Homo sapiens: one gene and its partners. The protein of the gene in region 3 purifies or fractionates together with the protein of the main gene of each other region. This does not show direct contact. Each region holds a gene or a part of one and is shown on either strand. Other genes may lie near its edges. The genes, in order: EIF4G1, EIF4G3, USP10 and ANKRD28.

Region 1 (7,047 bases), on a different chromosome or scaffold from region 3:
TATGGTGGCACATGCCTGTAATCCCAGCTACTTGGGAGGCTGAGGCAGGAGAATCGCTTGAACTCAGGAGGTGGAGGCTAGCCAAGATCACACCACTGCACTCCAGCCTGGGTGACAGAGCAAGACTGTCTCAAAAAGGAAAAAAAACGTCCTGAGCCAGAGAAATCCCCAAGACACCACTACCTCCATTCCAAATTCTACAGCTGAGTAGCATCTGGGTAAGGGAAGGAGGTAAGTGGTGAGTGGAATCGATAGTGGGTTTTCTCTCACCGTAGCAGCTTCATCCATCTCTTTTTGCTTCTTCTCAAAAACCTCATCATCATCTTTGTCTTTCTCAAACTCCTTCTGACATCGATTCAACAACAGCTTTCGGAAGTTCACAGTCACTGTTGGCTTTTCCGTAGTGGGCACTTTCAGCTGTAGGTCAGAGAGAATGTCACACTCAAGACTAGTCCTGGGCAGGGAAGGCCCTCCAAGAGCCTTTAACTACCTGACCCAGGAAGATCTCTGGCCCCAGCTCTGCCTCCTTCCAGCTGGAAGAGGCACAAGTTGGAGGGGAACCAAGAAGCTGGACTCAAGGAGTCTTGGGAATAGGAATGGGCAACCAGACCATTAGATTTAGAACCCACTGGAAACTAACCGCCATGAGGCAGCGGCACATGTTGGCATAGGCCACAGAGAAGTTGGGCTCTGAAATGGCCTTCTCAAAAATGAGGTCAATGACCCCTTTGAGGCGTTCCTCGGTGTCGATGGCCAGCTGCGTCACTTGCTTCATCAGCTGCTGGAACATCTGGGGTGTCAGTTTATTCAGGATGGAGCGCACCCTGCGGAATAGGTCCTGGAGGGAGAAGAGACAAGAGTTCCAGTGAGGGTCTCAGAACAGGCTGTTGGGAGGGACAGGAGAGGGTGGTGGGGACTTAGGCATGACAGATGCTAGTGATAAGGACAAAAAGAAGCAAAGAGGGCACAGATGGCAGACCTGGAGAAGAAATGGAGAGAGACCAAAAGCAGGACTTGCCAGTACCTGGGTTTTGCTGCCATCAGCATCTTCTTCCCCTCGATCCTTATCAGCCGCCGTCCGCTTGCTGCTGGGTTTCCAGGCTTTCTCTGCTTTGTTCAGTTTTATATCTTCGGTCATTAACACTGTGGCAATGATCTTGCGTGGTTCTTTTCGGGGTCCCTGCTGAGAGCGCCGGGGTCCCAGGCCAGCCTGCTAAGCAAGGGATGAAGACAAGAGGGGACATGGAACTAGTCAGCACAATATGTGACACCACTACTACACGCCTCCAGGGCAAACCCCTCCCCGCGGGCACTGAGACACGGAATCATCCACTCCCACTCCTTGCCCACCTGCCACTTTACCCAGCCCCACTCACCGGCCCACGGGGCAGCTCCCCACCTGGCCCACCCCTTGGGGGCCCACGGGTGCTAAGGGTTGTCCGGCCAAGGTTGGCAAAGGATGGAGTGAAGTCTGGGCCACAATTTATGCCTTGTAGTCTAGTGGGATCCAGTGGCCGCAGTGGTGTTTTATTGGCCTGCAAAGAGGACAGGAAAAGGTCTCAGAAGCAGGCTAGAGCGGTTGACTACTCTTTCAGGACCTCAGGCTCCTCCCCAATCCATCCAGCACAAACTTATCGTCCCCTCCCCAACTGAAGCCACTAACCTTGTCCAGCACCACGTCACTGATATGTGGCAATCCCTCTGGCTTCTGCATACTGGCAAAGATGAACTGAAAACCAAGCAGGAACTCACGGTCGTAACGTTTTTTCTCCTCTAGGTTTAGAGGCTTCCACTGATCTGCAAGGAAAACAGAATGAAGCAATCATACTGCCTCCTCTGGCCCTAATAAGAAAACTCAAGCCATTCTCAACCCTTTCTTCAGCATACCTGACTTATATTCATACTTCTGTTCCCCGGGCTGGATGTTCTCAGCATTGTGAATTTTGTCTTCCTTTGAGTCCCAGGTCTCATCTGCTTCCTCAGGACGTGGGGGCACACCACTGCCCTCAGACTCTGGGCCTGGATTGCTGCCTGCAGGAGGCTGATTTTCCACCTCTGGTACTGCCGGGTTCGCCTAGAACAACAGAACATCCAGTTTTGGTTGCAGAATGACCACTGCTCCATACCTCAACTTGGCCCTCTCCCCTCCCATTTTCTGCTCCCTTACCTCCTTGAAGGCATCCAGAAGGTCTCCAACAGCCTCCTTCTTATTTAGCTCCTTAATTTTCCGTCTCCTCTTTGGCACAGATACTGCCACTAATTAAAAATAAATAAATAAAAGCATGGATCTTTGCCAATAATTTAAGGAGTACCCTTAATCCCTGGGAAATAGAAAGCAGCCAAAGAACAGTATTTCCCCTTTGCATCACCCTTTTTAGGCTTAAAAGTCCTTAATCTAGTTCTTAGATTCCATTGCAGGGACCCAGAAACATGTCAAAAATGGGCGGTCATCAAGGAGGGCAAGGAACGATATCCCCTAGCCCGCCCTACCTCTACCGTCCAACCACACCTTACCTTGAGTGGCTGCTGCTGCCTCCAAATTCTGAGACAAGTTGGCTGGAATAGGGGTACTCTCTGGGGGGAGCAGTTCCTCTCCTCCTTTCTCACTCTCAGCTTCTCCTGCTTCTCCTGCTTCTCCTTCTTCCTCTTCTTCTTCTTCTTCCATTTCCTCCTCCTGAGCTGGGGAAGTAGCTGAAGGAGCCGTAGCTGGAGTAGCAGAGGGGATGGTGGGGGGCGCCATTGATGCTGTCACCTCCTTGGCCTGCTCCTCTGGCTCACTGACTGGGCTTAAGTCCACAGCTGGTGGCGAGGGGGCTCCGTTGAGCAGTTCCTCAGGTTGGGCAGTTGGAGCAATGGGCACAGGGGATTCGGAGGGGCAAGCTGGGGGAGGAGCAAGCTCTGGGCTTGACTCCACCTCTGGTTCCAGATCTTCAGATGGGACCATGCCATTAGGCTCATGAATTTCCACTGTGTGAGATGCCAAAGGGGTGGGAGCCTGGAGAGGACTGGAAGAAAACTCAGATTCTGGAACCGGTTTGCTAAGTGTCACTTCTACTTCCAGTATGGGTTCGGCGAGAGGAGTGGGTTCTGGAGAGAGGCGATATGGCTCCCCAGTTTCACGGGAGATGGGGGTTGATTCTTCTACAGACATTTGTATAGTTGTCATAGTGTCCCCAGGAATAGAGAGGACTGCGAGATTAGGCTCAGACCCCGGTTCCAAGACTGGGGATGGTGATGGGGTCGGAGAAGGCGACGAAGGCTGGGATTCTGAAGGGCTATGCTCTGGGCCAGGCAGCCCTGGCCGGTCAGCAATGATTGCTCCCTGTGACCGGTCATCTGCACCATAGGAAGGAAGAATGAGCAACTAAAGGCAAGTGCTTAACTGCTGTTGTTCCTCCCCATCCTCCAGCCCAGGCATTCCCAACTTAATAACCCCGCATCATCTTCTCCCCACCTAAGCTATACTTCCACTTTCATCCAAAACCCAATTCACCCTCAAAATCCCACAACCTGAAATCTAAGTCATCATTCTCTGGTACCCAGTTCAAGTCACTCCACCACCTCAGCATTTAACTGTTAACATTCCCTTTCCCCATAAAAGCTCCGTCCCACCGGCTTACTTACCTGGCCGGACAATGACAGCAACCTGGGGCGTCTCCCCATTAGCTTGAGGCTCCAGACCGCCTCCCGTCTGCAGGACACAAAGGGTTACCAAGTTTGCACTGAAGAGTCCCACAACCCTTCTTTACTAGAGCCATTTCTACTTTAGCTCTGCCTAGAAATCCAGGAAAGCAGGGAAATAAATCCCTTAGTTGAAAGAAAAGATCCAGGGACTTGGGAGTCCAGGGCAGAACAGACATCCCAGCCAGGGTATCACTCGAAAAGCAGACAGTACCTGGGGAGGGGTGGGTGTGGAGGCAGTGCGGGCCCCAGACATGATCTCCTCTGTGATATCCTTTCCTCCTTGGTTTGGATCTCGAATTCGGATCTGGGGAAAGAAAGCTATAAGATGAGTGGGAAGCAGGAAGAGCCCACCTCTCCACCCTGCCCCAATCTTAAGACTCTGGGCCAACTCCCCACCCCCCAGCGGGAAGCAGGTAGGTAGGTGCCAGAAACCCCTTGAGTTCCACTTTCAGCCCATCTGGCTGCTCTCGTAGTCCCTGCCCCAGCTCCCACCCTTAAGAGACCCTTGATCTCACAGAGCAGCCCTGTACATCACAATGCCCCTCCCTCCCTCATCCCTACCCCACCAGCAGTCCCCAAGTCAGTGGCTGCACACCCTGGGGCCCAGGACCCCCATCTAGAACCCAATCGGCTCACTTGTGGCTAGTGTGCCTGATCTCTGGGGGCAGGGCCCAGATCCAGTAGGTGGAGCCAGGGTGACTCAGCGGCTTCCCCAGCTCTGGCACCCTATTCTGGGCACCACGCCCAGGGCTTGAGGACTGAGCAGAGGCGGAGGCCTTGAGAGCTTCCAGGACTGGGGGGGCAGGGGGGAATGGGGGCTGGGGCCACAGAAAACAAACCATTTCCAAGGCAAGCCACTAGAAACCCAAAACCAAGCATAGTTCTTCCAACCCCCCAGCACCCAGGTCTCGCAGGAACTTCCTCGCTAGGCACTTCAGTCTTCCCATGACCTGCTTCTATGCTGAAATCTTAGCATCTTACAAAGAACCTGAGCCCTCCACAGACACCATTCTCTGCCCACTCTCAGCTCCTTCCTCCTCAAGTCACTGCTCTTTCCGGCACAATGTCCCAGCAGCACCTGACCTTGATTCTCCCCTTCCCAGATGTCCCGGAGCCCCTCACTGCTACTCACCGTCTTACGCTCCCTCTTGGGAGCAATCTGGGGTGGCTGGTTCATCAAAACTGGGGTGGGGGCCACGCCAGTGGGAAACTGCTGCACCCCTTGGGCTGGATAGTAGGCGCCAGCTTGGGGGAGGGGGGACGGAGAAGAATGGTGGTAGCGTCAGGGCCCAACCATATACTAATGCCTGCCTGACACCTCCCACCCCAAAACCTCTCACCACCCACAGCCGGCCCCTTGCCTTGCCCTGCCCTGCCCTCCTCCCCCAGGGAATTAGGTGTCTGTCAAAGCTGGGGAACCAGTCTGAACTGCGTTTACAAGAATTCCTAACACACACACACACACAAACACACACACACACACACACACACACACACACACACACACCCCTCGTAGGCAGGCACTCTTTCCTACCACACACCAGTGACCAGGAGGACTTATGTCTGTCCTTCCACCGTACAAGTTACTCTCGTGTGTGTACCCCACCCGCTATCAACATGTACACACATACTCTGAACCTGAAACAGAACCAGGTCTTTGGCTGGTAATGAGAGAAAGAGATCTGCCAACCCTGTTCCATTTAACTTGAGTCTAGTTCCTGTCTCCAGCCCTTTACAAAGGGGCAAAGAAACAAAGTAACATTATGAACTAGGCTCAAGATGAAGAAAAATTAATTCCTTAAAGCAAACTATCTCCAAAGTGGGTGAGTTCTTTTTTCCCCTTAATTTTTTTTTTTTTTTGAGATGGAGTCTCACTCTATTGCCCAGGCTGGAATACAGTGGCACAATCTTGGTTCACTGCAATCTCCACATCCCGGGTTCAAGCGATCCTCCTGCCTCAGCCTCCCGAATAGCTGGGATTACAAGAGTGCATCACCAGGCCTAATTTTTGTATTTTTAGTTGAGACAGGGCCAGGCGTGGTGGCTCACGCCTATAATCTCAGCACTTTGGGAGGCTGAGGCAGGTGGATCACTTGAGGCCAGGAGTTCGAGACCAGCCTGGTCAACATGATGAAACACCATCTCTACTAAAAACACAAAAATTAGCTGGGTGTGGTGGCACACGCCTGTAATCCCAGCTACTCGGGAGGCTGAGGCAGGAGAATCACTTGAACCCAAGAGGCGGAGGCTGCAGAGAGCCAAGACTGTGCGACTACATTCCAGCCTGGGTGACAGAGCGAGACTCCGTCTCAAAAAGAAAATTAAAATAATAACAATAAAATTTAGTAGAGACGGAGCTTCACTATGTTGGCCAGGCTGGTCTCGAACACCTGACCTCAAGTGATCCGCCTGTCTTGGCCTCCCAAAGTGCTGGGACTACAGGCGTGAGCCACCGTGCTCAGCCCCCCTCAAATTTTAAAATAGAGACAGGGTCTCACTAAGTTTCCCAGGCTGGTCTCAAACTCCTGGCCTTAAGCAGTCCTCCTGACTCCCAAAGTGCTGGGATTACAAGCAAGATCCGGGCACATTCTTTAATTTCATCCCTAAATTCCACTTGTTTTTGACAAGCACAAGTGTATTTGTTTAAATTTTGCATACATATAAACAAAAACATACATGTATGAGAGATTCATACTCAAAACTTTTCCTGATAGGTGATCAAAAAACTTGGAAGCCACTGCCATAAAGAACAGACTAATCCTTCCCTAGAACATAAATAAAAAATAGCTACAAAAACCTCCCAAATTTGCATTACATGGGCTCCCAACCATGGAAGAAGTGTCACAGGGAAAGCCTACTAATAGGCTCTCAGGCTGGTGCCTGATCCTACATTCCCTGATGTGGGAAAGACTCTTAACTCTCCTGGCAATAAAATCAAATTTTCTCCCCACAATCAACACCAGTTAAATATTAAGCACCAATCCCTACCACCTATTAACCTTATCATTTTTAGACCAGAAGCCAAGCCTGGGAAGGGTCTTCTGCTTTAGAAATCAGCAGATGAGTTTAGATGCTCCCTTGGGCTTGTTCTCACCTCTGACTCCCTCCCCTGCTTACCGTAGGTCCCAAATTCTGTAGGGCTTGCACCTGGATAGAAGCCTGGGGCTCCTGGCTGCACAGGGTACTGCTGTGTCGGGACAACGTATGTGGAACGCCCCTGGTGGGGAAGGGGGAGAGGGAGAGAAGGAGTTGAGGGAGCTATGAGTTCCATATCAGACTCCAAAAAGAACATAGGTCAAGACAAGACAAGCCAACTCTGGGCAATGACCAGAAGGAAGTCCCACCTCTGGAAAAGCAATGGAA
Region 2 (3,919 bases), on a different chromosome or scaffold from region 3:
CAGGCCTAATAAAACTTTCCACAGTGATGGTAGTATATATCCATACCATTGAGTATGGTAATCATGAGCCACATGTGGCAATTCTATACTTAAATATGTCTGTTGTGACTTAGGAACTGAATTATTGACTTTAAATTTAAATAACCATGTTTGACTAATAGCTTCCATATTGGACAACACAGGTCTAGGGCATGAAAATGGTTAATGATGTTGAGGATGATACTCTAGAATCTTTAGACACCCAACAAAGACCCTAAGTGTAGTGTATTTACCATGCTATATTTACTAAGGAGTTTCAGAATAGTTTTTAGTTAAGGGTTATGATTAATTCTTGGCTAATGAAACAAAGTAACCTGTACACTTAAGTCTTAGTGATACTTGGTGTTAACTAATGATTTTTATTACATCTTGAAAATTCAGTTGGTATTTGTTAAAGCGGGCAGTACATAGCTATTAGAGAGAGCACTCAAGTAGTTCTTTGGTACTTCCTTATTTTCGCTTTTGTAAAATTCCTTCTTTCCTAGTCCTGAATCGCTCTTGGAGATAAAGGAAAAGATGAAAGCAAATTATCCTTATAGTGTAACTGAAGAGACAATCTACCATGAATCAGATAATTTGATAATATTAGCTTAACTAATATAATTACAAAGATAAGTCTTTTTAAAAAAAGGCCGAGGCATGCAGATCACCCGAGGTCAGGAGTTTGAGACCAGCCTGGCCAACATGGTGAAACCCCGTCTCTACTAAAACTACAAAATTAGCTGGGCGTGGTGGCGCATGCCTGTAATCCCAGCTACTTGGGAGGCTGAGGCAGGAGAATCACTTGAACCCATGAGGCGGTGGTTGCAATGAGCCGAGATCATGCCACTGCACTCCAGCCTGGGCAAAAAGAGCAAAACTCCATTTAAAAAAAAAAAAGTTAATACGACTCATGATAAACCTAATATTGATTAGCATTTATTGTTTATTCCACTGCCTCCCTCCATTAATATAAATGATCGGAGAGCTGACTATAATAACTATAAGCTAATAACTTATTATATATGATAACTATAATTCTCAGTTTTACTATGAGAGTAAAACCGAGAATTAAAATCACACGGATAGTTTGGACGTTTAAAACAGTAAATAACAGGTGTAGTTTCACTGGATAAAATCCAGATGAGATAGCTTTTACTCATGTTTTCCATGTGAATGATCACCTCTTGTTCTTTTTTGAGACGGACTCTCGCTCTGTCACCCAGGCTGGAGTGCAGTGATGCAATCTCAGCTCACTGCAAGCTCCGCCTGCCGGGTTCACGCCATTCTCCTGTCTCAGCCTCCCTAGTAGCTGAGACTACAGGCACCCGCCACCATGCCCGGCTAATTTTTTGTATGTTTAGTAGAGACGGGGTTTCACTGTGTTAGCCAGGATGGTCTCGATCTCCTGACCTCGTGATCCGCCTGTCTCGGCCTCCCAAAGTGCTAGGATTAAAGGTGTGAGCCACCGCGCCCGGCCACCTCTTCATTTTTAAAACAACATTACAAGGAATAAAAAGCATATCCTGCCTTTCTCCCTTCCCCCAAATTTTGTAAAAATAATACAGTAAACTTGCAGCGCAGAAAATAGTAAAAAGAAAGTAAAAAACTACTCGTATTTAAATTTTATAGGGTTTAGATTGAGATAAACATGATATGAAACAGCTTCACTGGTATCAGAAGATAGTTCAGATTGGGCCGGGCACGGTGGCTCACGCCTGTAATCCCAGCACTTTGGGAGGCCAAGATGAGCGGATCACCTGAGGTCAGGAGTTCGAGACCAGCCTGGCCAACATGGTGAAATCCCTTCTCTACTTAAAATACAAAAATTAGCTGACTGTGGTGGCCGGCGCCTGTAATCCCAGGTACTTGGGAGGCTGAGGCAGGAAAATTGCTTCAACCCAGGCAGGCGCCTGTAATCCCAGGTACTTGAGAGGCTGAGGCAGGAAAAATTGCTTAAACCCAGGCAGGCGCCTATAATCCCAGGTACTTAGGAGGCTGAGGCAGGAAAATTGCTTAAACCCAGGAGGTAGAGGTTGCAGTGAGCCAAGATCGCACCACTGCACTCCAGCCTGGGGACAGAACAAGATTGTCTCTCAAAAAAAAAAAAAAAAAAAAAAAAAACAGAAAAAAAGTTCAAATTGTACAAAATAATAGGAATAAAAAAGAATTTAGACTGCTTCAATCTTTTTTTCCTCTTCTTTAAACAAGTTGTTGGGCTGTTTATACTGTCAAGAGCAAGTATGGTGAATTGTCATTATTGCTTTTTTCTGGGGGAATTAATGCACATTTATTCAGTCATTCATTATTTTGAAATATATTCTTTTCCTCATAACTACAGTGTCCCAAAGCTTATAGTTTATTTTCACCTCCTTGCAGATTTGCTGCGGATGTTTTTTGATTGTCTATATGACGAGGAGGTGATCTCCGAGGATGCCTTCTACAAATGGGAGAGCAGCAAGGACCCTGCAGAGCAGAATGGGAAGGGCGTGGCTCTGAAATCTGTCACGGCATTCTTCACGTGGCTGCGGGAAGCAGAAGAGGAGTCTGAGGATAACTAAAACTTCAAATACACAAAATGAAACAAAAGAAACAATTTAAGTATTTTTTTAAAAAGTTTCACGTCTTCGCCAATCACAGTGCAGCAAGGCCAATTCTCGCAGAAACCCCCACGTGTGCACGAGTGGGAGAGGGGAAAGAGAAAAAAAGGTGATCATGGAGGAAAAAGGTACTGGATAAAAGTAAACTTCAAACCTTAGGGCGGGAGCACTAAAACCAAAATACATGTATTATTTATAGAAAATATTTTCTGTTTTAATCTTTTCTTTTTAAACAAGGACTCATACTTAAAAAAATGTTTAGCAAAAAAAAAAAAAGTTGAGAACTTTTAATTTATTTTAAGGACTGCAAATGCCAGTGTAATTTTTTAATTTGCAGTTTCTGTAAACAACTTGTATAATAGAAAAGCAGAGAAATAAATTTCCCTCCCCTTCAAGATGCACCTCATGTTTGTTTTAAGGTATAGCATTTAGTCCAGATTTGAGAAAGTTTGGGGTGAACAAGGTAAGAAAGATTTTTTTTTTTTTGGCATCAAATCTTTCTGCCTGCCTCTCAGCTTGCTTCAGAAAATTTAAAAAATCACAATAGTAATCAAAACATACATAACATTGAAACAGAAGGAAATGCTGTGGACCACAGAACTCCAAGAATTGTTTAAAAAAAAAAAAGTGCTACCCTGAGAAAAGTACTCTTAATACTCTTGAAATCTTTAGAGCAACTTTAAGGCTTGTAAATACATAGAACAAATATTTAAAAAAACAAAAAGAAATTGACTCAGTACTATTTCTTTTCACTTTGAAAATATAAAGAACAAAATAAAGACAAACATTGCAAGTTTAAAAGAAAGTAAAGTGACTTCTCCTTTGGACAGCTGCTGCATGTGTGCCCATTCCTGGGGGTGCTGTCTGGCTATTTATTGTCTAATTCAAATCACTCCTGAGGGGAGAGAGATAAAACGAGAGAGAGTGAGAGAGTGTGTGTATGTGCGTGTATGCGCACGTATGTGCATGCACATGTATGTATGTATATGTCTCTACTCACTGAAAAGGCAAGCTACTTTGTGGGTAAGGAGGGCACTTGTGCTTGGGTGGGAATGCCCCACTGGGAGTCCAGTGAAACTTGTTTCCAACACTAACTAAAAATGCATTCAGGACAGTAGGCCTCAAGGGCAGTCCTTTAGATAACTAAGTTTTCCACTCTGTGTATCAGGACTCAGGACAATAATTCACTTTGAGACTGCCACTACCACTGATTTTAAAATCTTCCATCAATTGCCTGCAATGCTTAAGAAACCCAAAGATGTCCTCTAAAGAATGAATAAAACCAAAAGCTATATTATGCT
Region 3 (7,047 bases):
CCGTCTACTTCGGTCTCCCAAAGTGCTGGGATTACAGGCGTGAGCCTCGCACCCGGCCTCAACCAGCTATCTTAACACAGAGTTGCTACCAACTTCACTCAGTCCTGAGCTTGGATTACCAAATTCTTTCTCTCTCCTCTCCAGACTCCCGGCTAACCACTTCACCCTACACACCATTTCAGCCACAAATTTATCTGTTTCCCAAACAGGCTGCAGGCTTTGAGACAGTTCCTCTGCACAGTCTCCTCCACATGCCCTTGTCCGTGTGCTTCTCTGCCTGAAAAACTCCAGCTCAAATGTCACCGTTCTACAAGAGACGTCTTCCCAGCTTTGCCCAACATTCAGTCCCACTCTCCTCCTTTTTTGAAACACCTTATACCTAACTCCTGAGTCACGCAACTTCTCTCCACCTCCACGGCACCCTCCGAGTCAAAAGTCCAAGGACCCTGCCCTAAATGATCTCCTTATGGCCACTGCGACCCCGTGAGTCTATTCTTCACTGGGCAGAGTATGATCCCAAAAGGCAATGTGATTATGAGGTTCCATGGTCAAATGTTGTACCACCCCCTCTTCCACACTTTTCTCAGAATAAAGACAGTAACATCTAACAAAGGCTGCAAGGTTGGATGGTGCGTCTGTCCCTCCCCTCCAGCTCTGTGCCCAAGACACACAACTCCTTGCTGAGTTCTCCAAAGTGCTCCAAATTCCCTCCAGCCAAAGGTCCACCACACATGCTGTCCCCACTGTCTCATGCTGTAAACACGTCACTTCCACGGGAACGGTTCTCTGACTTCAGATTGTGTTCCCTTCCTTTGGGAAACATCTCTCAGTTTGGAGTGACGTGTACGTAACTGTGATTATCTGATTAGCAAGCTGTCTTCCTCAATGGACCCATAAACTCCTCCGCGAGAGAAACAATGCCTGTTTTCGCTCATCACTCCCTCCTCAGTGCCTGGTACACAGCAGCCACTCGGTAACTATTTGCTGAATGAATGAACAAACGAATGAATGAATGTTCTTGACTATGTTGTTCACACTTGTGTTACAGGAATTACCACCCTAAAACTGGATGCACCCAGCCATTAGCCTGCTTCTCTCCCTCACTACCCAGCGAACCTCTAAAGCACAGGAATTCTCTCTTCAGCTCTATACTCCTAACGTCCGGCCACCAAAATCTGTGAACAATCACAAAAGATATAAAGTCCTTCATATGTGGTTCTGAAAAAAGTGTCTAGTATTCTACAAATTAATTCTAAACAAAATAGTAAACCACACTTGGAAGCCCCGATTTTGCATTCTATTACAAGTCAGAAGTACTTAAATGTGGTTATCTCTCAGGAGTGGGACCTGAGTTGGGAAGTGTTTTGTTTTTTGCCATTGCAGTACTCTGATGAAACAAAGTGACAGAAGACAAAAACATGATTTTGAAGAAGATGGAGAAAAATTCAGGTGAATTACCCAGTTTCTCATTATTCCCTAGGGCAGGTGACTTACCAATCTCCAACTAATAAAAAGTTTGTCCTCTCATAAATCTAGTGCAAAGGCAATGGATGGACAAGAATCTGAATGTGAATCAGACCTCCTTTTTTGTTTTTTGAGATGGAGTTTCACTCTTTCGTCCAGGCTGGAGTGAAGTGGCGTGATCTTGTCTCACAGCAACCTCTGCCCCCACGGGTTCAAGCTATTCTCCTGCCTCAGCCTTCGGAGCAGCTGGGATTAAAGGTGCCCGCCACCACACTCGGCTAATTTTTGTATTTTTAGCAGAGATGAGGTTTTACCATGTTGGCCAGGATGGTCTCAAACTCCTGACCTCAGGTGATCCACCCACCTCGACCTCCCAAAGTGCTGGGATTACACGCGTGAGCCACCACGCCCAGCCAGACCTCTTTTTACACTATGAACACCGGACAGCATGACTACTACTAAGGGGGTGGAAGTCTTCAAAATATTTCTTATCTTTTCTTTTTTGACGTAAGAGTCTCGCTCTGTCACCCAAGCTGAAGTGCAGTGGCACAATCTCGACTCACTACAATGTCCACCTCCCAGGTTCAAGCGATCCTCCCACCTCAACCTCCCAAGTAGGTGGGACTACAGGAGAGCACCACCATGCCCAGTGAATTTTTGTATTTTTGTAGAGAAAGAGTTTTGCTACGTTGCCCAGGCTGGTCCCAAACTCCTGAGCTTGAGTGATTCGCCTGCCTCAGCCTCCCAAAGTGCTGGGATTACAGGCGTGAGTCACTCACTGCACCTGGCCCAAAATATTTCTTAAGAAAAAAAAAAATTGTTTGGACAACATGTTATAAGTTGTGGCAGCACTTCCACAATCCCCTGCACACTGGATCCTGATAAGTCACTTCAATCTCCAGAATATCTGCTTCATTCCCTGGCAAAATTAGGTAAACCTAAGAAAACTGACTTCAGTGGATGTTTTCAATAATTTTGAAAACAAGGTTTGCTCAATAAAGTTCAGTGACTAGATACAACAGACCATATTATGAAACAACGGAACAACAACAACAAAATACTCCAGTGGAAAAAAGCATAGAAGACACACACCAAACTGACGATTAAGGATCAGAGAGGAAGGGAATGACTTCTACTTTTCACTTTAAATACGTCTGTGCTGTTTTCGTGTCTTAAAAATAGCATGTCTTTATACTAGAAAATAAAATAAACGACTTTATTAAAATGTACCCCACACAAACTTTAGTGAATAGTAACATATTATAGTAACAAATTTTGTAATTAGTAACATTAAAGTTTCTAAATGCACATTTCATTCATTCATTCTGTAAATGTTTATGGAGGAACTACTAAGGGGAAGTCACAGTGTGAAAGATTATGCCTTCATCAGTCTCTTCCAGAAAACCAGTCTGGCAAAGTAGAAAAAGCAAAGGATTTAGAAGTCAAAACACCTGCTTTTAAAAGGTCCTGATGGCCAGCAGCCATTTGACCTCAAGCCACAACCTCTCTGGGTCTTATCTTACTCATCTGTAAAATGGTTATAATAATACAGGACAGAGTTGCTGTAAAGGCTCAAACAAGCTAAGGCACTTTCTAAACTATGCAGTTTATAGAGTTTATAGGCTTCAAATGATGACTACTACAATGCTTAGTATCTCGTAATAAATATGTTTCTCCTTCTCCAATGATCAGATCTACCCAGAAAGCCTACTTCAGGTCTTGAATAAATATATATATAGTCTTGGCCCGGCGCGGTGGCTCACGCCTGTAATCCCAGCACTCTGGGAGGCCGAGGTGGGCAGATCCCGAGGTCAGGAGATGGAGACCATCCTGGCTAACACCGTGAAACCCCGTCTCTACTAAAAATACAAAAAATTAGCTGGGCGTGGTGGCGCACACCTGTATTCCCAGCTACTCCGGAGGCTGAGGCAGGAGAATGGCGTGAACCCGGGAGGCGGAGCTTGCAGTGAGCCGAGATTGCGCCACTGCACTCCAGCCTGGGTGACAGAGGAAGACTTCGTCTCAAAAAATATATATATATAAAAATATATATAAATATAAAAATATAAATAAATATAAATACATATACAAATAAATACATATAAATATATATATAGTCTTTGCAGCCACGTAAGGGAAATTATTACTTAAAATACCAAGAGAAGGGGTATATAGGAACTCTTTGTACTTTTCTCTCAATTTTGCTGTGAACCTAAAACTGCTCTAAAAAATGAAGTATAAAAAAATTGTTTTAATGTATCAGAAGTTTTTTATATTGGGCAGGAATCTCGAAAACCTCTAGAATTGAACTTCATTTTCAAATCCTCTTCTATTTTTAACCAAAACTTCAACATGTCCTATCAAAAGTAAAAAGACTGATACTTGCAGAATGAATAGGGAGGCTAGGCGCGGTGGCTCACACCTGTAATCCCAGTACTTTAGGAAGCTGAAGCAGAAGGGATCCCTTGAGGCCAGGAGTTCAAGACCAGCCTGGGAAACACAGCAAATCCCTGTCTCTACAAAACAACAACAAATTGTTTTTTTCAAAGAATGAGTAGGGATGCTGGGGGCAGTGGCTCATGCCTGTAATCCCAGCACTTTGGGAGGCCAAGGTAGGTGGATCACCTGAGGTGAGGAGTTCCACACCAGCCTGACTAACATGGTGAAACCCCGTTTCTACTAAAAATACAAAAAAATTAGCTGGGCGTGGTAGCAGGCACCTGTAATCCCAGCTACTTGAGAGACTGAGGCAGGAGAATCGCTTGAATCTGGGAGGTAGAGGCTGCAGTGAACCCAGATCGCACCACTGCATTCCAGCCTGGGCAACAGAGCAAGACTGTCTCAAAAAAAAAAAAAAAAAAAAAAAAGCAAGCAAGGGCATGATTATGTCTGTACTCAACATACACAAATGGAAAGGAGCACATCTTCATAAAACAAAGACAAATGGGAAAACAAAAATCTAGCACCATCAGATCAGGAAGAAAGAAAGAGGGAAAGGGACGGAGGGAGGAGTCAGCTAGATGTAAAAATCAGGTTCAAAAGGCACAGGAGTGGCTGGGTGTGGTGGCTCACGCCTATAATCCCAGCACTTTGGGAGGCCGAGGTGGGCGGATCGTGAGGTCAGGAGATGGAGACCATCCTGGCTAACATGGTGAAACCCAGTCTCTACTAAAAATACAAACAATTAGCTGGGCATGGTGGCGGGTGCCTGTAGTCCCAGCTACTCAGGAGGCTGAGGCAGGAGAATCACTTGAACCCGGGAGGCAGAAGTTGCAGTGAGACAAGATACCGCCAATGCACTCCAGCCTGGGCGACAGAGCGAGACTCCGTCTCAAAAAAAAAAACAAACAAAAAAAACAAGGCACAGGAGTGGGGACACTCACCTTTTTATTAGGGATACTCTCACTTCAAAATGGACTGGTTTTGAGACTCCTGAGCCATAGAGTACAGGCTTAAGGAGATGTCCCTCCAGCTAATACCAGAAAAATAAACTGAGAATGGATCCGAAGAATGACAACCGATAAGGCTGTACACACAAGCCCAACGGGGAGGAGACTGAGGACTCTTAGGAGCAGCCACCATTACAGCGCAGACGGTAGCAGGTGCTGGGCCCGCACTCCACATGCACATTCTCCTAACAATTCTCATGTGAGCCCAAAAGGGAAAGTCGAGGAATTCAGGCTGTAACAGCCCCAAACCACATTTCTATCTCAACACCTTACCTGCCCTATTCCAGGAGAGGGCAACCAGGGCATGATGTTTCAAGACGGGACAGAATGGCAGTGCTGGTAGAGCTTCTGGGTTCTCAAGTCATCTGATGAAAATGGGATCATGGCCCAGGAGCTTTCAAATAGCCAGAAAATAGCCAGTTCAGAAAAAATCTAGGATCTGAAGATTCTACATCGAGGTTTATGATAAATTCTACATTTTCTGATCCTTGAAACAAATACTATACACATACCCCAAGGGCTACCTTTATTTTCCTACACTAATTCTTCATCCAGCCTGTATTGACAGAAATGGTCAAAGAAAGACCTTTTGGGAGAACACTTCAATAAACAGGAAAACTGCAGTCCAAGCACATACAAGTCTCTGGAAATGAACATCTACACTGCTGAAGTGGCACTAAAGTGACAAATGACAGTAATCCAATGGCCCAAGGCCAGCAAATTCCATTGCAAACAGATTTATCTGTTTTGTGCGATGGTGATTCTTGCATGTGTGGCAGTAAATAGAAAAGTAACAGCCTAATTACAAATTCAAAAGCAAGCTCTTCCCACTACGTTTCATATTTTGGTATAGTACCAGTAATAAGTGTCCTCAGCAACCACGTTTAATGTGCCACCTGAATACCAGGAACCATTAACAGGAAGTACCTACATGTCTGAAATTATATCTTTAAAAACAAACAAACAAACAAAAAACCGAAACAAAAACCCTGATGTAACTAATTCAATTGGAGATGATACCACTTTTCTCAATTACTTGAATGTTATATTCTGAGCACAGCACAGTGCAACGTGCCGCTTAGGCTTGGCATTAAACAGCAATCATTAAGCTTCGTAATCCTTTTCTCCTTTAAGTTTTCCTATGTGAATCACTGCTTAAATCCTATCAGTTCCACGTAACAGAACACTGGAATACATGTCCTAACTTTTGCTTTAGTGAGGAATTTAGAATGTGGTAGGCCCGCTTAGTATTCACTGGAATTTCAGTGCGCTGTGCTCTCAATGAGATGGGCTCAAGAGCATGATGGTGAGGTCCTGGTACGGCGCGGCTGCTCAGGCCATCTGTACAAACCACTAAGGCGACCACTGGCTCACAAACTTCTCAGGCCATCTGTACAAACCACTAAGGTGACCACTGGCTCACAAACTTAAAACATCTACTCTTAGGACATGTTTAAATAGCTTGCTGTCACTATGCAAAGGAAAACTGTTATCTCCAAATGCCCTGTCAACATTTCAAACAATTGTATTTACTTCAGCTGCTCATTACTTGAGATTCTAATAAAAATGTATCTCTTTTAAGAATTAACACTAATCCAGCTGTTGGCTAGAAACAGATATTCAGCAATACAGTAACATTCAGCCATATGCTAGAGGGGGAATCCAAGACTTTCCATCATGTAAAATGTGGAGGATCTGCTATTACAAGCTAAAAAAGAGACTGGGGTGAGTCTATGCAGAGACAAGGACAGAAGCCAACTGCATGACATTCAAATTGGGTGTAGGAAGCATTATTGTGGAGATTTCACTATAAATGACATCAATAATCACAAATATTTTTTCGGTGTAAGGCAAAACTAATAGCTTCAAATTAATTACCCCAAATAATTTAACCGGTCCCCTCAGTGACAAGGATATTCACTTGGACCTACACTTCAACTGTTAAAGTTCATTTATTTGTCTTTGCTAAAATGCTGAGTTACCGGTCTCAAAATGTTTCCAAATTCTTCACTATTACACTTCAATACAGGTAACAGGGATCAACCAACACTTTCTAATATTTGGAAATAAGGTTATTAACCTATAAACTTTTTTATTTATTTTGAGATGGAGTTTCGCTCTTTTTTTTTTTTTT
Region 4 (7,047 bases), on a different chromosome or scaffold from region 3:
AGCAGAATATACAAGGTAACACTTTCAAAAATATTAAGTTATATGCTACATCTAAGATCTACCGCTTAGCTCTTAAATCAGCTCTTTAGAGTTTAAAAAGGGTTGCTCATAATCTCAGCCTTCCTATGTTTAAACACTAAAAACAGTTTGGCTGGATCCTTGTGTAATACTACTTTGACATTTTTATCTACCAAAAAAATATGGCACTAAAGAAGGCTTGTGTCTTATTTGTCTCATCACTTGTTTGCAATGATAAAATGTAACAGCACTTGGTATTATAAAAATTAGGATTATCTTTGTATCACAGCTTAAAAGGCAGGAGTTCATAGGGCACAGACATAACTATTTTAGAGAGAAACATCCATTTTCCAACTATTATTGCTTTATAGTACTATTTGGCAGAAGAAAAAATATTTCTCTCTCAACAATATGCTTTATTTCTCCAGTTACTATTAAGTCGGACATGGGTTCAAATTCCCATTCTGCTATACTGATTCTGCAGACGGTTAATTTTTGTGAATTTTAGTAGAAATGTTAACCTGTCAATTTTATAAAACTGTTGTACAAGTTAAATTGAGTAATACAAAATGGCTTATGCCTATGTCTGTCTCAAAAGTAAAGTTCTACAATTAACACCAATTTTAATACTCTTAATAAAAAATTAATATTTGTAGAAAATAATTTTCTTATAAAGAAGAATCAAAGTTTTCCTCTAAAATGTGGTATCATTAATATTTCAGATTAACCTATTTGGGTTCTACAACATGGCATTAAGTTCTAGTAAATCTTAGGGAAAGGCATTTATTATTTTGGTCACGAAAATCTAGAAACACAAATGAAAGCTTTTGGGCAAAAGCAGGAGGTCACTGAAAGTCATTTAGAATTTTTAGAGTGTCCTGAATTTGGAGTGGGGAAAGACTGTGAAGATCATTAATGTAACCCTACACATTTACCCCCCCAAAAAAAAAGAAGAGTGAGGGCTGAAGTTAACAGGATTCACTCAACTTGTATAGCCAATAAGGCTAAGAAGATATGAAAATCTAGGTCTTTCAACTTAGAGTCCAACTGTTCTTCACATTCTATGTACCACTCTGCTTTTAAAACATTTTGATTGCATTTCACCCTTTTATGGTTTACAGTGCTTCTTCCACATCCAGGTGACTTATTTTTCCAAAATTTTGCTATTTCAACAGTTTTTAGGCAACTAATAACCGTCCAGTTAGGTTCCTATCCAAACAACTATTTTCCCTTTCTTCCTTCCTATGAAAATCCTGATTTACTCCTGAATATGGCAATATATTCAATAAAGTCCACTGAAGCCCTATTCCTGCTCCAGGGGATGAACCAGGTGATGAACCAAGACTGATCTAGCAAAAAGCGAACCCCATTCTGCTTTGCTGGTGAATTAGTTTAGAGTAGTCTTGTAACCAATGGAACCTTAGGAAGGAATTTTGTGGGGACTTTCGAAGAGAGGTTTTCTCCTTTTTTTAAAAAAAAAAGAAAAGAAAAGAAAAGAAAATGTACAGGAGAGTCTCTTTTCCAATGTCTTTGGTTGTCTCCCATAAGTACATGATACAGCAGTCATCTCTTTATTATGAGAAAGCCAAGAGTTTCACAGAGAAGCTCACCCAGAGCTCTGACATTGCTGTTTTAAACAACCCCAAATTACCATGCTCTAGATTAAATTATTACACAAGCAAAAAACCTCTATTTATTCAGGTAGTCAATTATTATATCTGTGGCCAAAATCTGCCAAATATAAAACTCTAGTATTTGCTAGTGAAACTATGTTACATGACTTCTAGAAGACTTCATGTCATACCAAATAATATGAATATATAATTTTTTAAAATTAAAGTTTGTTAAAAATCTATTAGGGAAACAAAAAGTTGACTTAAAAAAATACAATTGACAAATCTTTAGCCAGACTAAGAAAAAAAGAGAAGAAGATCCAAATAAAATCAGAAATGAAAAAGGAGACATTACAACTTACACAGAAATTACGACTTACACAGACATTATGACTTATGCAGAAATCCAAAGGCTTGTTAGTGGTTACTGTAAGCAACTATATATGCTGATAAACTGGAAAATATAGAAGAAATGGACACATTCCTAGACATATACAACCTACCAAGATTGAAACAAGAGGAAATCCAAAACCAGAACAGACCAGTAACAAGTAATGAGATCAAAGCTGTAATAAAAAGTCTTCTAGTAATGAAAAGGCCAGGACATAATGGCTTCACTGCTGAATTCTACCAAACATTTAAAGAAGAACTAATACCAATCCTACTCAAAATATTCTAAAAAATAGAGGAGGGAATACTTCCAAATTCATTCAAGGCCAGTATTACCCTGATACCAAAACCAGACAAAGACACATCAAAAAAAGAAAACTACAGGCCAGTATCGCTGATGAGTATTAATGCAGAAATCCTCAACAAAATACTAGCACAACTGAATTCAACAATATATTAGAAAGATCATTCATCATGATCAAGTGGGATTTATCTGTGGGATGCAAGGATGGTTCAAAACACAAAATCAATTAACATGATATATCATATCAAAAAAATAAAGAATAACCATATGATCATTTCAACTGATGTTGAAAAAACATTTGATTAAAAAATTCAATATCCCTTCATGATAAAAACCCTCAAAAAACTGGATATGGAAGGAACATATCTCAACATAATAAAAGCCATATATGACAGACCCACAGCTAGTATCATGCTGAATGAGGAAAAACTGAAAATCTTTCCTCTAAGACCTGCAACACAAGGATGCCCACTGTCACCACTGTTATTTAACATAGTACTGGAAGTCCTATCTAGCTCAATCAGACAAGAGAAAGATATCAAAGGCATACAAATTGGGAAGGAAGAAGTCAAATTATACCTGTTTGTTGGTGATATAATCTTATATTTGGAAAAACCTAAACATTCCACAAGAAAACTAGAACTGATAAATTCAGTAAAGTTCCAGAATACAAAATCAATGTACAAACATCACTAGCATTTCTATATGCCAACAGTGAACAATGTGAAAAAGAAACTAAAAAGTAATCCTGTTTACAATAGCCATACATAAAATTAAATACTTAGGAATTAACCAAAGAAGTAAAAGATCTCTATAATGGAAACAATAAAACACGAATGAAGAAAATTGAAGAGGACACCAAAAAATGGAAAAATATTCCATGTTCATGGATTGGGATGAATCAACACTGTTAAAATGTCCTGGCAATCTATAGATTCAATGCAATCCCAATCAAAATACCAATGGAATTCTTCACAGGAATAGAAAAAATACTAAAATTTATATGGAACCAGAAAAGACCCAGAATAGCCAAAGCCACCCTAAGCAAAAAGAACAAAACTGGTGGAATCCCATTATCTAACTTCAAATTATGCTACAGACCTATCGTAACCAAAACAGCATGGTACTGTCACAAAAACAGACACGTGTACCAATAGAACAGAACAGAGAACCCAAAACCAAATCCAAACACCTACAGCAAACTCATTTTTGACAAAGGTGCCAAGAACATACACTGGGAAAAGACAAGTCTCTTTAATAAATGGTGCTGGGAAACTGGATAAACACATGCAAAATCATGAAACCAGACCCCTATCTCTTGCCATATACAAAATTCAAATCAAAATGCATTAAATACTTCAAACTGAATCTAATACAAGAAAACACTGGGGAAAATCTCCAGGACATTAGTCTGAGCAAATATTTCTTGAGCAATAGCCCACAAGCACAGGCAACCAAAGCAAACATGGACAAATGGGATCACATCAAGTTAAAAAGCTTCTGCACAGCAAAGGAAGTAATCAACAAAGTGAAGAGACAACCCACAGAACGAGAGAAAACATTTGCAAACTACCCCTCTGACAGGGGACTAATAACCAGAATATAAGGAGCTCAAACAACTCTACAGGAAAAAACCTAATAATCTGATAAAAAATGGGCAAAAGATCTGAATAGACATTCCTCAAAAGAAGACACACAAATGGTGAAAAGGTTCTCAACATCACTAATCATCAGATATCCAAAACTCAATGAGATATCATCTTGTCCCAGTTAAAATGCCTTTTATCCAAAAGTCAGGCAGTAACAAATGCTGGTGAGGATGTAAAGAAAAGGGAACCCTTGTTCACCATTGGTGGGAATGTACAACCACTACGGAGAACAGTTTGGAGGTCCCCCAAAAAACTAAAAATAGAGCTACCATATGATCGAGCAATTCCACTGCTGGGTATATATCCAAAATAAAGGAAATCAGTGTATCGAAGAGATCTGCACTCCTATGTTTGTTGCAGCACTGTTTACAATAGCTAACATTTGGAGGCAACCTAAGTGTCCATCAACAGATGAATGGATAATGAAAATGTGGTACATACACACAATGGAGTACTCGTCAGCCATAAAAAAACAGACCCAGTCATTTGCAACAACAGGGATAGAATTGGAGATCATTATGTTAACCGAAATAAGGCAGGCACAGAAAAACAAACATCACATGTTCTCACTTACTTGTGGGATCTGAACATCAAATCAACTGAATTCATGGACATAACAGAAGGATGGTTACCAGAGGCTGGGAAGGGTAATGGGGGGTTGAGTGGGAGGTGGGGATGGTTAATGGGTACAAAAAAATAGAATAAGACCTACTATTTGATAGCACAATAGGGTGACTATAGTCAATAATAACTTAATTGTATATTTTAAAATAACTTAAATAATGTAATTGGAATGTTTGTAACTCAAAGGATAAATGCTTGAGGGGATGAATACCTAATTCTTCATGATATGATTATTTCACATTACATGCCTGTACCAAAACATCCCATGTACCCCATAAATATAGACACCTATTATGTACCCACAAATTTTTTTTAAAACCCACTAAAATAAGAAGAAAAATCTATTAGGTGTGTTACTAAGAAACGTGCTGTTTAGTGGTCTACAATATTCAAAACCTCAGGGTGTGACTAAAGAAACTCATCTAAAATTATACAATGACTATTTAATGGTAGAGAAATAAATCTGAACTTATATCCATTCTAAAAATGAATAAAAACAACTTCAAAAAACTTAAGAGAAACCTGAGTTTCAAAAAGTCCAACGTTATTCTCCAAATACTTATTTAAATAAATTTACTTTGGAAAAACACGACTGTCACACTGACATAAAGCTTAAAAATATTTTATTACCTATTAAAAGTCAGTGCATTTAACACCCATTGCCTTTTAAAACCCCATATGATTCCTTATCAGACAAAATCAGATGATATTTACCATCTTAAATTCAAATAATGGCCAAAAAGTTAACAAATCTTGACTTTAAGGCAACACTCTCAACTACTAAGAAAGGGTCACGAGAGAAAAGGCCTAAAAGCAATCATAAAAGTTGTTGTCAAAAACCTTTGTATCACTGAAGACAATTGTCAAAGAGTTACTCTCAAGAAAGGCCTACTGATGAGTGAGCTGATGCTCTCAATGACTCTGAATTTTTTTTTAATTTAGGATAAATTGATTAAATATAACATAAAAGTAATGTCAGCTACAATAAACTTTGTAATGATGGAGAAATTAGCCCTGGTAAATGGAATTATAGTTCAAACTTTCTAATCAAGGTAGTATTTGTCAGTACTATTAAAATAAAACCAAAATAACAAGAAAACCTTAGGAGTTAAATGGAAAACATGTTTTCCACCTTTTCATGCGTCTATACCCCTTGAGCTATTTTCTAAGAAACGCATACTCTTCAGTATACCCTGGGTAAAGTAGCCAGACACTTCATTTAAAACAAATAAATCATGGCCCGGCACAGTGCCTCACGCCTGTAATCCCAGCACTTTGGGAGGCCAAGGCGGGCCGATCACCTGAGATCAGGAGTTTGAGACCAGCCTGGCCAACATGGTGAATGAAACCCTGTCTCTACTAAAAACACAAAAATTAATCGGGCGTGGTGGCAGGTGCCTGTAATCCCAGCTACTTGGGAGGTTGAGGCAGGAGAATCGCTTGAACCCGGGAGGCAGAGGTTGCAGTGAGCGGAGATCATGCCACTACACTCCAGCCTGGGCAACAGAGCCAGACTCTGTCTCTAAATAAATACATACATACATACATACATAAATCCTGAATTAGGTGCATGTTTCCAACTAAATATAAACTTGAAGGCAATTCACTTAGAAAAAATTTTAAAAAATATATAATGATAGCATTCTGTTCATTACCCAATGTTAAAATTAACAACAGTTTTAGCCAATGATTCAAATCTATTCAGATAATTCATTATTTTAAAAATAAGGTAAAACTTTTTTGTATCTACCTAACATTAAGTGGTCACAGCAGTATTATATTAAAAAAAAAAGGAGGAAAGATGAGAGTTAAAAATGAGCTTGCAATGGGTGCTTTCTTAAAACCACAATCATTTCTAGGTCATCTGTTTTGGTGTTGCCACAGCGACTTTGTGAATCATATGACTTTTCACCCCCTCCATAACTCAGGGGTACATTTGTTTCTGGTAAAAATATATACATTAGTGGATGTAATTTTGTTAGAGTACGTAATGTACTTTCAGCCACAACTTAGTAAACTAAATACTGGCCACTGAAAAAACATAACAGAGAGAGAAAATTATCCATATATCCACCTTTCTAAAACTGTCCATCATGTCAGCACTGAATATACTACTGTATCGTTAAGTCTGAAAACTTTTCCAACAATGACTTTACTGAAAACCTAATCTGACAAAAATTAATCAAGCACCATTGTAAAACACTCACCATGATTATTTACAAAAAGCAAATCTGATCTTATATTTAGATATACACTTACAAGAATCCTCATTTGAAATGCACAGTTAAGTATTTAATGGTGAAGTATCATGATTTCTGCAACTTACTACATATATATGTAAAAGTTGTATATTAATAAATACAGAAAGCAAATGTGGCAAAATGTTATCAATGCCAAAAGTAAGTGAAAGGTATATGGGTAGTCAGCATGTTTTTTTAACTTCCCTATG

The links.
Region 1: the proteins of USP10 (region 3) and EIF4G1 purify together in Homo sapiens (affinity purification with mass spectrometry; 4 studies listed by BioGRID, with this or other methods). This does not show direct contact.
Region 2: the proteins of USP10 (region 3) and EIF4G3 purify together in Homo sapiens (affinity purification with mass spectrometry; 2 studies listed by BioGRID and IntAct, with this or other methods). This does not show direct contact.
Region 4: the proteins of USP10 (region 3) and ANKRD28 purify together in Homo sapiens (co-immunoprecipitation; 3 studies listed by BioGRID and IntAct, with this or other methods). This does not show direct contact.

Annotation. Positions count from the first base shown.
Region 1 is NC_000003.12:184,317,571-184,324,617, reverse strand, and holds part of EIF4G1 (eukaryotic translation initiation factor 4 gamma 1), read right to left. Parts: intron 6,902-7,047; coding exon 6,802-6,901; intron 4,930-6,801; coding exon 4,817-4,929; intron 4,356-4,816; exon of another isoform or gene 3,989-4,355; coding exon 3,896-3,988; intron 3,692-3,895; coding exon 3,625-3,691; intron 3,337-3,624; coding exon 2,515-3,336; intron 2,257-2,514; coding exon 2,168-2,256; intron 2,075-2,167; coding exon 1,888-2,074; intron 1,798-1,887; coding exon 1,664-1,797; intron 1,536-1,663; coding exon 1,377-1,535; intron 1,214-1,376; coding exon of another isoform or gene 1,211-1,213; coding exon 1,025-1,210; intron 839-1,024; coding exon 641-838; intron 418-640; coding exon 271-417; intron 1-270.
Region 2 is NC_000001.11:20,805,979-20,809,897, reverse strand, and holds the end of EIF4G3 (eukaryotic translation initiation factor 4 gamma 3), read left to right. Parts: intron 1-2,397; coding exon 2,398-2,579; 3' UTR 2,580-3,419; downstream 3,420-3,919. UniProt on the Homo sapiens protein: Component of the protein complex eIF4F, which is involved in the recognition of the mRNA cap, ATP-dependent unwinding of 5'-terminal secondary structure and recruitment of mRNA to the ribosome. Functional homolog of EIF4G1.
Region 3 is NC_000016.10:84,703,000-84,710,046, reverse strand, and holds part of USP10 (ubiquitin carboxyl-terminal hydrolase 10), read right to left. Parts: intron 5,308-7,047; exon of another isoform or gene 5,220-5,307; coding exon of another isoform or gene 5,187-5,219; intron 1-5,186. UniProt on the Homo sapiens protein: Hydrolase that can remove conjugated ubiquitin from target proteins such as p53/TP53, RPS2/us5, RPS3/us3, RPS10/eS10, BECN1, SNX3 and CFTR.
Region 4 is NC_000003.12:15,787,949-15,794,995, forward strand, and holds part of ANKRD28 (serine/threonine-protein phosphatase 6 regulatory ankyrin repeat subunit A), read right to left. Parts: intron 1-7,047. UniProt on the Homo sapiens protein: Regulatory subunit of protein phosphatase 6 (PP6) that may be involved in the recognition of phosphoprotein substrates. Involved in the PP6-mediated dephosphorylation of NFKBIE opposing its degradation in response to TNF-alpha.